Regions from separate parts of the Homo sapiens genome. Here region 2 is reported to be linked to region 1. Evidence: microRNA targets listed by miRTarBase, many of them from high-throughput screens and not tested one by one. Region 1 holds a microRNA gene; the other region holds the end of a gene's coding sequence.

Region 1 (7,125 bases):
CTGGCATACAGTAGTATCAAGAAATATTTGTTGAAATAATAAAAAATACTGTGTAGTTTAGTACATACACTATTTTTCTATTACTGACGACTTCAAAGGCAATGTAAAACTCGTGTAATGGTAAACTGATTTAACAAATACTTATTACAACTCAAAAGGCTTAAAACTCTGAACATTACCAAATACTACTCAAATTTTCAAATTTCATATTCTATGAAACAACTTATACCACAACAAAGTCAAATCTTATGTTTTAAAAAATAGACAAGGTTTTGCCATGTTGCCTGGGCTGGTCTCGAACTCCTGAGCTCAAGTGATCCACCTGCCTCAGCTCCCAAAGTGCTGCAATTACAGGCATGCGCCACAGCGCCCAGCCAAATCTTATTTTTAAGCTAAGCATAGATTAAGTAGTTGGCTGAAAGCTCAATGCAGAATGTGCTGATAACAAAACCATCTTCGAGATCTAGGGTTTTTTTTCTTTAAAAAAACCCAATTGATGTGAGTTTAAATATAACATAATTAACTGAAAATCCTTTTATGACTTGAACTAGACCTGAAATTGTCCAGTGCAAGGAATATGACAATCATACAAAAAAAAGACTAAATATTAGAGATTACCAAAGAAATGCTAAATAAAGCATGGCAGAGCCAAATGATGAAATATTATTGTAGTATAAGAAATAATGTTTGTTAAGATTATTTAATAACATCAGAAAATTACCCTAACAGCAATTGAAAATTTGGCACATATTTTTACATAAGCATAAAAAAGAGTAAGGTAACAATGAAATATATTAAAACATCAATAGTCTTTAGGTGGTAAGATTATGGGCATAATAAGCAAACAACAAAATCAGTTATAAACCTGACACTAGCTATTAATTTTTTTACTATGGCACTCTGTTTTTCAGTCTGATTCATAGTCAGCACTTTAAAGGGTTGTAGATGAAGAAATAGAATTATGGATCCTTTATTCTAGTAATAAATGATTTGGTTACATACCTTCCCACACTTCATGTGTTAGTATCTTACCACTGCTGTAACAAATTACTACAAACTTAGTGACTTTAAACAACATCCATTTAGTATTAATATCTTATAGCTTCTGTAGGTCAGAAGTTCAAACATAGCATAGTTCAACTTAGTTCTCTGCTTAGGGTCACACAAGTTTAAAATCAAGGTGTCAGCAGGTTTGCATCTTTCTCTGAAGAAGAATCCATTTCTAATCTCATTCAGGCTACTGGCAGGGTCTCACACTGTCGCCCAGGCCGGAGGGCAGTGGCATGATCATGGCTCAACATAACCTTGAGCTCCTGGGCTCAACTGATCCTCCCACCTCAGCTTCCAGATAGCTAGGACTATAGGTGCACACCACCACGCCTGGCTAATTTTAAAAAAAAATTTTTTTTGTAGAGACAGGGTCTTGCTATGTTGCCCAGGCTGGACTCAAATACCTGGCTGCAAGTGATCCTCTCACCTTGGCCTCCCAAAGCACTGAGATTTCAGGCATGATCCACCTAGCCAAGCCAAAACTCAGTTCTTTATGGTTATAGGACTGAGATCCCTGTTCCCCTGCAAACTGACAGCTGGCATTTAACCTTAGCTCTAGAGGCCTCTCCCCAGTCTTTGCATGTGGCTCTGTATATGTTTTTAAATTGTATATATTTAAAGTGCACAACAGTGATGTTTTGATATACTGTACATATACAGTGAAATAATCACCATAGTCAAACAAATTAACATATCTATCTCCTCACTCACTTCTCTCTCTGCGTGTGTGTGTGTGTGTGTGAGTGTGTGTGTGTGTGTGTGTGTGTGTGTGTGTGTGTGTGTCTGTGGTCCTGAATATTTTAGAAGCAGCAATGGCTTGTCAAATTCTTCTCACACTTGAAATTTGTTTTACAGGGCTTATCTGATTACACTGGGCCTGCCTGAATAATTTCATCATTTTTACTGGTTCCAGAGATAAGAGCATAGACATTCTTAGGGGTTTATTATTCTGTTTACCATACCATCTATTTCTGTTGAGGCCGAACTATATTGCCTTATTATGACACAGATTAGGACCAGTGATCCCATGAAACTGGAGATAAAAATTGGGGTTTTCCTAACTTGAGAAAATAATAGTTTCAAAGTCCATATCTTTAACCTTGTGCCAACATTCAAGTGATGAGTTGCAAGGTTTAGGGAAGAAGGAGAAGAAAGGGGATGATAATGATGATAATGATGATGATGGTGATACTAAAATGGGGAGGTAAATAAAAATTCAGTTCCATGTGATTAAGCACCACAGTAGCAAAACTTGATTATACTCGAAATCAAAATGGCAATTCATTAAAACTACCAGATTTTAGTGCCCGATGTGTGGGCATATCGTACCCTTCAAAACACCAGTTCTGAAAGTCTTAAACATTTAAAATCCAATTCAATCTTTTTCCAATCATCAAAATATTATTCAATATTACTTTCAAATGCCTTTATAATGGTTTCACAATTAGCGTGTTAATGTTACTGACTAATGTTACTGACTAAAGTACTGTTTCCTGAGTACTTTACGGCTGATAATAGTTTTTCAGGCCAAATACCCTTTGATGGAACTTCAGAGGTTAAGATAATTTTGTAGTTTGAAGAATTCCAAATGTTTTGAGAGAGAGAGAGAGAGAATGGGTACCAAGTGATCAGAACACAAACAAAACACTGACAACAATTTTGTCAAAACCAAAGATTCTGAAACTGAATGAAAAATTTCTGACCGGAACCTAATGATTCATCATTCTCAAATACTGTTAACTTAAATATCTGAGTCTGATGAATCATTAGGTTCCAATTGGAAATTTTATCTAACTTCACATATCTGTATTTTTACTCAGATATGTGCAAAATAATAAAAACCAGGAGACAACTCAAAATCCTAATTATGAAAAATCAAAAGAACCAGAATTAGAAGTGAATGATTAAGTCAACAATTTTCCACCAATAATTAAATTTAAATCTTCCAAACATAATCGTTATTCACATATTTAAAGATTTCAGGTATGAGAGAGTTCAGTTTAGGACACAGACTACTGCAAGAGACTATTACTCCCACTCGAAAAATGAAAAAAAAAAAAAAACCATCATAATATTTTTTAAAGGTACCTAAGAGCTGAGTTGGCGAACCAACCAGGTAACCTGAATTCCAAAATGTGACAAGCCCCTGAGGACAGTGGCATACTGTCCTGCTTTACCTTTTGCAAGGCATGAAGAGAAGAGGTAGCAATCATGTAAGCATATAAGAAAAAAGAACTAAAATTTTACTGAATTCTTAAAGATTTCATACATAGAAATTGCAAGACATTTTGATAGAGAATAATCTGTAAAGTCCTTCCTAATAATAAAATAATTTCAAAAAACGAATAGCTAACATTTAGAATGTGTTCACTAAATTTTAAGCATTGTATTAATACTAGTACCTGCCAAGCTTTATCAAATTAGACCTCACAACCTAGTAAGAAAGGGCTGTTCGTTTCCTTGCTTAACAGAAAAAAAACAGTGCAGAGAGGTTAAGTAACTTGTCCAAGTTAACAGAGCTGGTGAATGGTAAAGCTGGGATTCAAATAGAGGCATCTTTACTACAGAGCCTGGATCATAATTACATGTCTCTTCTCTAATCTAGACATAGTTTCTTAATGCAATTTAAATTGCTTAATGATTTATTTTGTTCAGTCTTCACAGGGAACAAATTAGAAACTTTCTCCCATTTCTTTTAGATATATCAGGACAGAATGCTTAGTCATGTTTAATAAAGAATTTAACGCAAACTTTTTACATTACAGATTATACTACTATTACTTGATTTAAGGGTAATATATGACTGTACTCTACATGGGAAAAGTGGAAAACATAGAGTAAATTAGAATCCGTTTGTTCTTGCCCCAAGCTGCCTATCTTAGAGCATTAAATTACAATGAATTAAAGATCTACTTAGTTCCAAGCACCATTCATTCATTTAGCAAATATTTACTGAACGCCTACTATATGGTGAGCTCTGTTCAAGGGGCTGGAGATAGAAAAATCCAAGCAAAGTCCCTGCCCTTAAAAAGTCTAGTGGGAAGAAACAGGCAATTAAAAAAAATACATTAGGGGGTGATAAGGGTTATGTAAACAGGTAGCTGCCACCACCACAGAGACTATCAGTTCTGGAAATACATTATTCAAGATTAGTTTGGCTACACATAACAGAAAAGTCCAATATAGTACAGACTTATACAATGCAGAATTTATTTCTCGTGTAAGTCTTGAGATAGGTGGTTATGGCAAGTTAGCAGATTATCAGAGGCCCAGGCCCCTTCTATAGTCCACATCCTTAGCAGGTGGCTTTAATCCTTATGTTCCAGGACAGATGCTGGAACTCCAGGAATCCTATCATCATCTAGACAGCAGGATGGAGAAACAAAGAAGGGTGGACCGTCTTCCTTTTAAAGAGATGTAAGAATCGGCTGGGCACGGAGGCTCACGCCTGTAATCTCAGCACTTTAGGAGGCTGAGGTGGGTGGATCATCTGAGGTCGGGAGTTCGAGACCAGCCTGACCAACATGCAGAAACCCCGTCTCCACTAAAAATACAAAATTAGCCAGGCGTGGTGGCGCATGCCTGTAATCCCAGCTACTCAGGAAGGCTGAGGCAGGGGAATTGCTTGAACATGGGAGGTGGAGGTTATGGTGAGCCGAGATTGCGCCATTGCACTCCAGCCTGGGCAATAAGAGTGAAATTTCTTCTCAAAAAATAAAAATAAAATTAATCAGAAAAAATAAGATACATCAGTAGCAATCACAATGCAGTTCTTTATGACCAGATAGCAACCTCTATGTACCTACTAATCTCGTCTTCAATGGACACAATTCCTTACGTTAAAAAGAATCTAATGTACCAATTTAAACTTGCATTTATTATATTAAGGCAATAGTCATGATTAGAAGGAAGGCAAAAAAAAATTATTCCCATATTAGGAAGATGAAGTATGTCTGTTACCGGGGCAAACTATCAAACTGAATTTCAAAACTGACAGGCTCTCCCTGAAGTCCTAGAGAGGATCTTGTGTTCACTAATTCAGATGTTGCAAGTATTCTAGTTCCCAGGTAACTCCTAGTAAAACCAAGACTGAACAAAGATATTTCTCATCTTTAAATTTAGAATCATCTCATCGATTAAACCTTCCTATCTATGAGATCTATATCTGAAGTGGGCTCTCCCAATTATTTTACATCTCAAAACTGTTTATTCTCATTATGGCATCTTAAATATTTTTGTTTATTCTTTCTCCTCCATTAGCTTACAGGCTCTCTCTGTTTTGTTCCCTTTCCTGAAGGAAACTATAATTTTTTGTGTCAAAAATATTTTCTCCTATGAGTTGCAATCTTCAGGGAAAGGACGTAGCTTCAAACAAAGGCAAATGCTTTCTCCTTAGCCAAAGTAACATAAAGGTCACTTTCTGTAAAACATCAGGATATTGCATTTTAAAATGCTTTCCATATAACATTAGTTTGATGAACGGCTTAGCCTAGGATTCTGCACCTAGTTCCAATCAAAACCAAGTTGTGAACAGATCCCTTCTTTACACCAATCTCATCTTTCAAGAACGAGCTAAAGGTTCATGAATTCCTTCCTCAAGAGGCAGTTACTTTTCAAGCTAAGGACCAAGCTTGAAACAAGCATATACCTGCACAAGGGAGGTTTAATTTCACTACAGAGCGAATCATTTTTTCAAGGAAACCAGAGGGTGTGTCATACAGCATCACTGAATATTCTAATATGCGATGAAGCTGTTATGCTTCCTTATGAACTTTATAAATCTTCATTTTTATGAGGCTTAGAATTCATCCCCCTTCCCTCTTCCACTGTTTTCCCGGGGTCACAGTTGTAGTATAGTTTGCCCAATGGATTTCGCATGGTCATTGTACCTGGAATATGTCACGCTCCCTACTCTTACTGCCCCCAAACTCTTCTCAGCAGAGATAGGCTGAAAGCAGCTCGCTTTTAGGCGGCGACGCAAACACACGTAGCCAGCTGAGCGACAGCAAGCAACCAAATGGCTTTGCTGGAGGCCCCCTGCGTGCACGGGTAAAGCTCGTTGCAAAATACAGTCCTTTCATTTATTCCCATGTTGCTATTTATGAGACCTGTCAAGGCTGCAAGGGCATGCGCAGCCTTCCCACCACACAGGACCCGCTGGGGTCTCCGGCTCCCCTAAAATTAAACCATTGTCTCTCGTTCCAACGGCGTGTTTAGCTGTTGTGCGTTATTTTACAGATAAAGGAAGGATCCCGTCCACAGACCCAATTCTTAGGGCCGCCTTCTCCCCGACGGAGGAAGAAGCTTCCTGGCAAAAGGACGAACAGGTGCGACGCCAGCAGTTCGCAGCCTCTCACCTGGCCGGCGGGCTGGGCTACTGTCACCACTCAGCAGCCAAGGACTTGGGCCCCGCAGCGGCGGCCACTCGGGGTCTGCCGGGTCCCCTCTCTTTCCGCCTGCTCTCGGCCCCGGACCCCAGACTCAAAAGCGCCTCACGCGTTCCGCCTTAGGCTCACCGTCCGATCTCGCCAGACAGCGTCTGGACGGGACCGGGAAACGGCGGCCGCCACAGCTGTCCAGGTTCTGGGATCCACGCTCAGAGACGACAGCGCTGGCGATCACCAGAAGGCCTGCGGGCTCCCGAGAAAGGAAAATCCGTCTACAGTCCAGCGGCTGACATTTCCCAGTCAGCCGTAGCGCCGCCCGCTTCCGCCTCCCCGCCTACCCCGTGGGCCGACCAGTCCCGCTCCCGCGGGGGGTTGTGGGTATCTCGAAGGCGGGTAAAGCTGCAAGGGAAGGAAGTAAGGGCGAGCCCGTCGGACTACGAAGCGGGACGGAAACTACAATTCCCAGCAGGCCTTGGGCCTCAGTGCGGCCGCGAAGCAGAGCGGGCTGTAGAGCCTTGCGCGCGCAGTGGGGATGGAACGTTGCTAGGCTTAGCGGGTCTGGCTGCTGGGGGCCCGAGCAGCACGCTCGGAGCCGCCGCGCGCCAAAGCGGGAATCTGGGAGGCGAGCAGCTCTGCAGTTAATGCACGTATTTTAAACTCCCGGGCCTGCGGACGCTATGCACAGGTA
Region 2 (7,118 bases), not on the chromosome of region 1:
CGAACTCCCAAATAGTTGCGATTACAGGTGGGCGCCACCATGCCCAGCTGATTTTTTTGTATCTTTAGTAGAGACGGGGTTTCACCACGTTGGCCAGGCTGGTCTCAAACTCCTGACCTTGTGATCCGCATGCCCCGGCCTCCCAAAGTGCTGAGATTACAGGCATGAGCCACCGTGCTCGGCCAAAAATGAAGCATTTCTTATTTAGTAGAAGAAAGAAGACCAGCTAAACAGGAAGCATAATGAACTCCTAGCTAAGCTCAGAGGAATTTGTCTGCAAAACCCTTACAGAACACCACACAATCAAATTATTTGCTCCATAGCAACTTTACCCCCAAAGTGCAGATCTGTTTGGCTTATTGGCTTGAGGGCTACCTGCACAGGATCTAGGCCCATGTTGTCTTGCCCTCTGATGCTCTGTCTTTCCATTTCCACCTGTTTTCTGCTGGGGGCACCTCAATCTGGACTGGGCACCTGGAAGGGGCCCTCTGTGAGAGCAGCTCATCATCACACTGCCATGGATGACTCTAAACCCAAAGCTGCTGCATTCCCAAAACATCAGAAGCACACTGCTCCCCCTGGAGTTATGAATAATGCAACACCATCAGCTACACAGAGCTGCAATCTGAGACGGCTGCCTGTGACTCAACAGCCTACATACACACCCTCTCCTGGCCACCTTATCCAGAACCAGGAGATAATCGTGGAGGACAAGAGATGGGAACCGGCTCCTTCCCCCAACATAACTCACCCCTCCAGCCTTTCTGGAATACGGGTGATTCCAGGAGCTATGCAAATCCAGCACATTGGAACTTTAGTACCAACAATAAGGAAACAACGGAGGATGGCAAAATAGAAAAAGGTCTTACCTGTGGCAGGTCCTTCACTGTAACAGAGCAAACCTACTTGAGTTTCTCCTTTTGTTTGGATCCATGGCTCATAGCCTTTTCTGTATCATGAGTGCCTTTGAGATCATTTCATCTCTCCCCAGCAAAGTGTCAAAGCAATTGGCACAGTGTTAAGAGGCTGGGGTGTGGAGCCAGACTTGGACTCAGGCTCTGGTTCTGCCATTATCAGATGTCTGAATCTCAAAGTCTACAGACATACCATAGAGATAATAGCAATACTTACCTCCACAGGGTTATCGAGGAGAATAAATGAGATAATGCATGCAGAACCTCTCACACAGCTAAGAATTTAATATGTTAGACTATTATTAATTATGAAAACACATAAAGAATTCTGCATATAATTTCAGAGGTCTATGATTTCTAGGGGATCCTTAGCCTGGTTCCGGATGGTCAGTAAGACAACTTTCTTCAATGCCTACATTTTCCCTCTGAATTCCATCTGTGTTTACTAAGCATCTGCTGTGTCCTGGGCAGTCCAACCCACATGAGTATCTTGGTCACTAGTGTCATCAGCACCTTTGAGGGGTAGGGATCATTCCTATTCTACTGATGAGGTGAGATAACTTGTCCAAGGTCGCATGGTGAAGTCGCTGTTGAAATCTGTCTTCTGACTCGTTGCTCTGTCTTCATCTGAGGAAAGACTTGTGAGGCTTCTGAGGAGGCTGCTCTCCATCCTGCTGTGTTCTGTCAGTGACACTTTGTGCACACAGGAGATCCTAAGACACATACCCTAGGCCCTCAGAGCCGGCAGTGACTTCTTCAAAATCAGTTCCGGCAGCGCTGAGTGTCCATGGAAAAGAGCTCTTATTCAGAGCAGCCCTTCCTGTGTGCAGAGCTACGCAAGTAATTAAATCACTTCAGCAACAAGATCAAGGGGACGGATAAGTGTTAGAGACTGTGTTTCAGTCCTGACTGCCTCTTATGCATGACCTCAGGAATGCCACTTCACCTCTCTGAGTCTGGTTTCCTCACCTATAAAAGTGAAGGACAGTTCTGACTCCACAGGGTGCTGTGTGAGGGTTACGTGAAGTCGAGGGTTACATGAAGCCTTTGCATAATACCTGGCACAACGTCAGTCTTCCGGGAGTGGTAGGACTAGTCTGCATTCTTGGTTTGCAGATTAGATGAGGAAACCCAGGCCCAAAGAAGCAAACAAACAATAGCTCACCCAGTCTTCTCTGTTTATTCTTCTCAACTACACCATGCTGCTTTGCAGGTTGGTTTGACAAACATTTCCCCACAATTAGATGCATGATGACCAAGGGAGGAAAGAAAATTTTCACAGGGTATTTAAAAAGCTCAGGGAACAAACAGATCAGTGCAAATCAGTAAGGCTAACACCTGAAAATGACTCTGCACAGGTGAGGAAGTGGAGCAGAAGAGGGAGGGGCTGGTTCAGGGAACAGGATTTAATATGTCAGTGAAGACCCTGCCTCTCTCTGTAACAAGATGCCTAAAGAAGAATAGTGGTGCTTCCAGCCCAGCTCCCTCTTGTTTTGGGAACAACAGTCATTTCTCAGAAACCTCACTTGCAAAGGCAGCCCTTCCAAAAACATGAGAGCTTTAGTTTGGAGAAATTATTTAAGCTCACTTTTGCTGGAGAGGAAATGAATTTAAACTAGGACACACAGAGAAGCAACAAAGAGTGTTAAAGAAGCAACTGAAAAGGTAGTCAAAGATCTGGCTTAAGGATTAGAAGCACTGGCTTTCTAGACTATGGACAAGTGTCCATTCAACAGTTATCCAGCCTGGCAGGAAGCAGATATCTTTCTGTGTATATCTGGATCCAACTAACATTTATCCAATGTCTGTTGCATGCCAGGTACTGAGCAAAAACCTTCTTCCTATAAATTTCATTTAATGCCATTAAGGCCAAGAAGGTGGCATAACCAACTTCCTTTTTCAGCTGAGGAAACAGGAGCACAGTGAATAACTAACTGGCTGGGATTTGTCCTAGGTCCCCTGAACTCCAAGCACAGTGCTATCTCCACTAGACCAAGCTGCCTTGTCTCTGGGCTCAAGAGAAGCCTGCATAGGAGCTGAAGGTCAAGAGGTTGCAGGCTTATCTCATATGCACATACTTGGACCTCCCTACCACACAGCTGCCAGCGACAAGAAAGGGCTTCTTTTCCTTCCAGCCAGGTCCAGAATTCAATGTCATTTTTCTAGCTTAGATTATCTAAAAAAAATGCCACAACAGGGGATACAAATTTTAACATATTTTATTGATTTAGGGGCCAAACAAGGCAGCATTTGGTCAGTTAAGAAAGGCACCTCATTGAAAATAATACATCACAGTGCTGTTGAGTGATCCCAGTCACAGGATTTGAGAATGGAAAGGACAATCTTTGGATGACATAGCTTAGGACACTTGCTCATTTATTTAAAAGAGTCCCTTCACACAGTGCAGATAAAAGAAGGCAAGAGCATAGGATTGTGGCATGTGCTGGGTAGCTGTGAGAGGTTACTCATGAAAGTAGGTAGCCTAGTAAATTAGTGGTAAGTCAGGGGAAGGGAATCAGCCTCCCTTTCCATTTCATTCCCTTCCCCCTCCCCTTGATTCCAGTTTGCTTGATTTGTTGAGCCACCATCCCTATGAATACACCTTACATCTCTTTCAAATGTGGAGATGGTTTTTTGATCTTACAGTGTGTGGAACCGGAGTCAGTAATCAAAGCTCCCTGTTCCAAGCTATAGACAGACAGGACAACAATTTGATTTCCTGTACTCTTGGTCTGGAACCCATGGGGTTCTGAGATAAAAGCTGAGGTCTTAGAGCACTGGCTTTAAAAAATATTTTCACCAGTCCAGAGTAAATGAAAACCCGATTCCTTAGAAATAATATTGTGTCTATTTCTACCCCCACCCTCCAAGCATGGTGTTTTTTAAAAAATTAATTTTTCCCTTACACTTTAAAAACTCTCACCTATGTATAAAAGAAACTGCCACACTACAATAACACTGCTGTTGTTCCAAGTATTCCTCTGAGCCCCTCACCAGCCCTCCCTCACCATCCTCACCCTGACCACCCTTCCCCTCTGCCCAGCACCTAAGAGCAGGGATCACGCCGCGGGGTGATGAGCAGTGTTGCAGTCTCGCCTGGCCTTCTGATACTAGGCTGAAATAGAGAGGAAACAAGAGAGAACAAAATGGGTTTTTAAAAACCAAGTACATATCAGAGGAGGCTGGCATGTAAGCCCCAGCAACCAAATGCATTAAACACTGGACATTTCTGTGACAGGTAAAAGCAGAACCTGCTGAGGCTGAGGAACTCTGGAATTAAATGAAGCAAAAACAGAATCCTAACCATACTGAGAAGGGTATATGCATTCCCTATGAATCTTCCAGTTCTTATGGGCAGCCCAAATATTACTTGTACATGTTGTATGCACACGTGAATCTATGTGGACGGATGACAAATATTTGGGCAAGGATCATGCACATAAAATTAGCAAACATTCAAGAACCTCAACTTTGAGGCCAAGTGCTTACAATTGTCCCTAGTTAAAGGGGAGCTGATTCTAAGATTCATGATGCCACTGTCACCCAGAGAAGGATCCCAGACCAGGCACACATAGCTGACAGTTTTTGTTTCACTCCTCTTCCTTGCCCATTCCCAGAAGTCATGTGCTTCCCAGAAACACACAAAGCCAGACTGAGTTTCCATTAAGAGTGGGTGGAGTTGGTTTAGAGCCAGGAAAACAAGGCAGGACAGAGGCAGCAGACACTCACTTGGACCAGGCAAAGAGGGAAGCAAGGTGGCCAGGTACTCATGCCCAGTTGCCATGTGGACAGCAGATAAGACCTCTGGTAGTCTCACAGATGGCAGGAGAGCTCAGGTCAGGAGGCTGGGCACTTTAGAGTCCACTGAATCGAGTCAGCAGCAGATTATGCTGAGGCTGGCGATATTATTTACTGGATCTGCCACTGACTTTCTAATGGTTTTTCCAGAGGCTGCCGTTTTTGTGGTCCTTCATAGCAGTCTGTTACTTCATCTGTTTGCCACAAATCAAACCAGAGACCAAAAGACAGCAGGGACCTTAGAAAATGCTCAATAGTTGGGAAGCTAAGGTTATGAATAAAAGCTGGTAACTGTCACAGGTGGTCTTATTTCTGGGTGATCTTTTCTTGGGGAAGTCCATGGCTATAGCCATCATAAAATTAGGGGTGAAGGGTTGGATCTAGAAAGGAGAGGGTTTGGGCTTAAAAAGAACATATCTGATTTCAGTTTTATGTCCTGGAGAGAGACTGGGTTTGAATAAATACTGATCAAAATGAATCCAAGAATAGATCACACACTGTTTTGTTCACACTTGGAAACACAGGCAAACATTAAAAATAAAAGCAAATAAACCTACCCTGGTCTCTTTTTGGGGAAGTAGATTTGACTGCTCTCAGATGATCAGCCTGGATGTTCAGAAGACAATCTGAATTCAAAAGGACCTTTCACCTGGTTTAATTCTCTGGCAACAATTCAGTTTTCAAACCCAATTCCCAAATAATTGCTATTTTCAGCATCATGATGCAGATCACAAAAATATTCCAATTTGGCCTGGCTCTTTTTATGACGATATCCTCTCCCAGTAATTTCTGTAACCTGCAAAGTAAGTGCCTTTTTCCTTCCACCTAGGGGGAAAAAATTAATGATCCCTGTTCACACACTGACTCACGTGGGTTTTCATCATGGGTTAGAAAACAAAATGGAATTCTCTGTCCATAATGTGCCATCAGGAACTGTGACCCTGCCTGACTTCACATGATCCTGGACTTCTAATCAGCTGCTGGAAATGGAAGAAATACTATGAGGTTCTGGAATTGCGGTCCCTGGAAGATTACCTGGGTTAGTTCATTTTGGTCAAAAAATAAAATCAAAAGTATGGTTAAAGAAGTAAACAGCTGGGCTGGGTGTAGTGGCTCACGTCTGTGATCCTGGCACTTCAGGAGGCCAAGGTGGGTGGATTGCTTAAGCCTAGGAGTTCAAGACCAGCCTGGGCAACTTGGCAAAATCCTGTCTCTACAAAAAATACAAATATCAGCCAGGTGTTGTGGCATGCACCTGTAGTCCCAGCTGCTCAGGAGGCTGAGGTGGGATAATTGCTTGAGCCCCAGGAGGCAGAGGTTGCCGTGAGCCAAGATCACGCCACTGCACTCCAGCCAGGGTGGCAGAGCGAAACCTTGTCTCAAAACAACAACAAAAAAGAAGTAAACAGCTGGTAAAGCAACCTAGCCTAAAACTTACAAAGTAGCAGAGTGAACACATATGTGCATGCACACACACACACACACAACACACATACACACAGATGAGAGTAGCACACACGCCAAAGATACATCAAGCAAGTGCTTTTTTAATCAATACATCAAATGATATTTTTGCTAGCCTGAGGAAGCTTCTCTTTGCCTGTCCTATCATTCCCACCCATTGCCTCACAGGGATGGAAAGAAATTCCTTCTTGGACCCAACATTAGATAAACATAACCAAGTCTTTACATGTGGCTTTGGAGAAGGCTGCTAGGATGCTTGCGAACACGACATCGGGGGTCTGGGATGCATCGATGGCGGAGTGGATCCCCCGTTTCCTGTAGTACTCTATGAGTGGGGTGGTTTGAGTGTGGTAGGCTTGCAGGCGGATTTTCAAGGCCTTTTCATTATCATCTGATCGACGGATCAAGGGTTCCCCGGTGATCTGAGAACAGGAAGACAGCAATGAAAGGCTGGGACTGTTAGCAAGGTTTTCTTATTCCATGCCAGATGCAGATTTGAGATGGGACCATTCTGCCCAGGATGCTGTCTGTTCCCAAAGCCCATCAGAGACAAAGACAGGCAATCCAGACCCTCTCCAGTGAAGAACTTTGCTACTCCCAGGAGCAGAGCAGCTGGTGAACAGAAGTCAGAGAGTTTGTCAGAAACACCAACTGTGAGGAAAGGGGCTCATGAGGGGAAGATAGGCAATGACTTTCTCATCTTTGTGCTCAGGCGATTCAGCTTCCAAGATAAACACTTCTAGGGTCAAAAGTAAGGAAGTCAAAAAGGCCCCTAAGACCAGAATACATCAAAATCAAAGATACATTAGCAATTGTAATCTTAGTTGCTTAAATATTTAGTGTATTTACTAGAGTGTCACCCATCAACATTCTAAAAGTGGCAAGTAAAATAAGAACTTTCAATGGTAGAATTAGCAACTTTGCAAAATGTGACTAAGTTGC

Evidence for each region. Region 1 holds the annotated microRNA hsa-miR-580-3p (UUGAGAAUGAUGAAUCAUUAGG, at 2,759-2,780, opposite strand). A microRNA usually pairs through its seed, bases 2 to 8, with sites in the 3' UTR of a target mRNA and lowers its output. Matches are read on the target gene's strand: a 7mer-m8 pairs with bases 2 to 8, a 7mer-A1 pairs with bases 2 to 7 and ends in A, and an 8mer does both.
Region 2: the mRNA of AK2 is a reported target of hsa-miR-580-3p. Seed matches in the 3' UTR shown: 8mer at 3,238-3,245.

Annotation. Positions count from the first base shown.
Region 1 is chr5:36,145,149-36,152,273 of GRCh38, forward strand. MIR580 (microRNA 580) reads right to left here and starts at 2,840; the gene lies at 2,744-2,840. LMBRD2 (LMBR1 domain containing 2) reads right to left here and starts at 6,739. Exons shown (of 18, transcript NM_001007527.2): 1 at 6,408-6,739. SKP2 (S-phase kinase associated protein 2) reads left to right here and starts at 6,963. Exons shown (of 10, transcript NM_005983.4): 1 at 6,963-7,122. The coding sequence starts at 7,115. RefSeq lists silencers at 6,010-6,069, 6,670-6,809 and enhancers at 6,023-7,006, 7,080-7,125.
Region 2 is chr1:33,006,805-33,013,922 of GRCh38, forward strand. It overlaps AK2 (adenylate kinase 2), which reads right to left. Exons shown (of 6, transcript NM_001625.4): 6 at 1,182-6,598. The coding sequence ends at 6,377. Among named protein-coding and RNA genes, the nearest start is that of AK2, 27 kb to the right of the region's middle.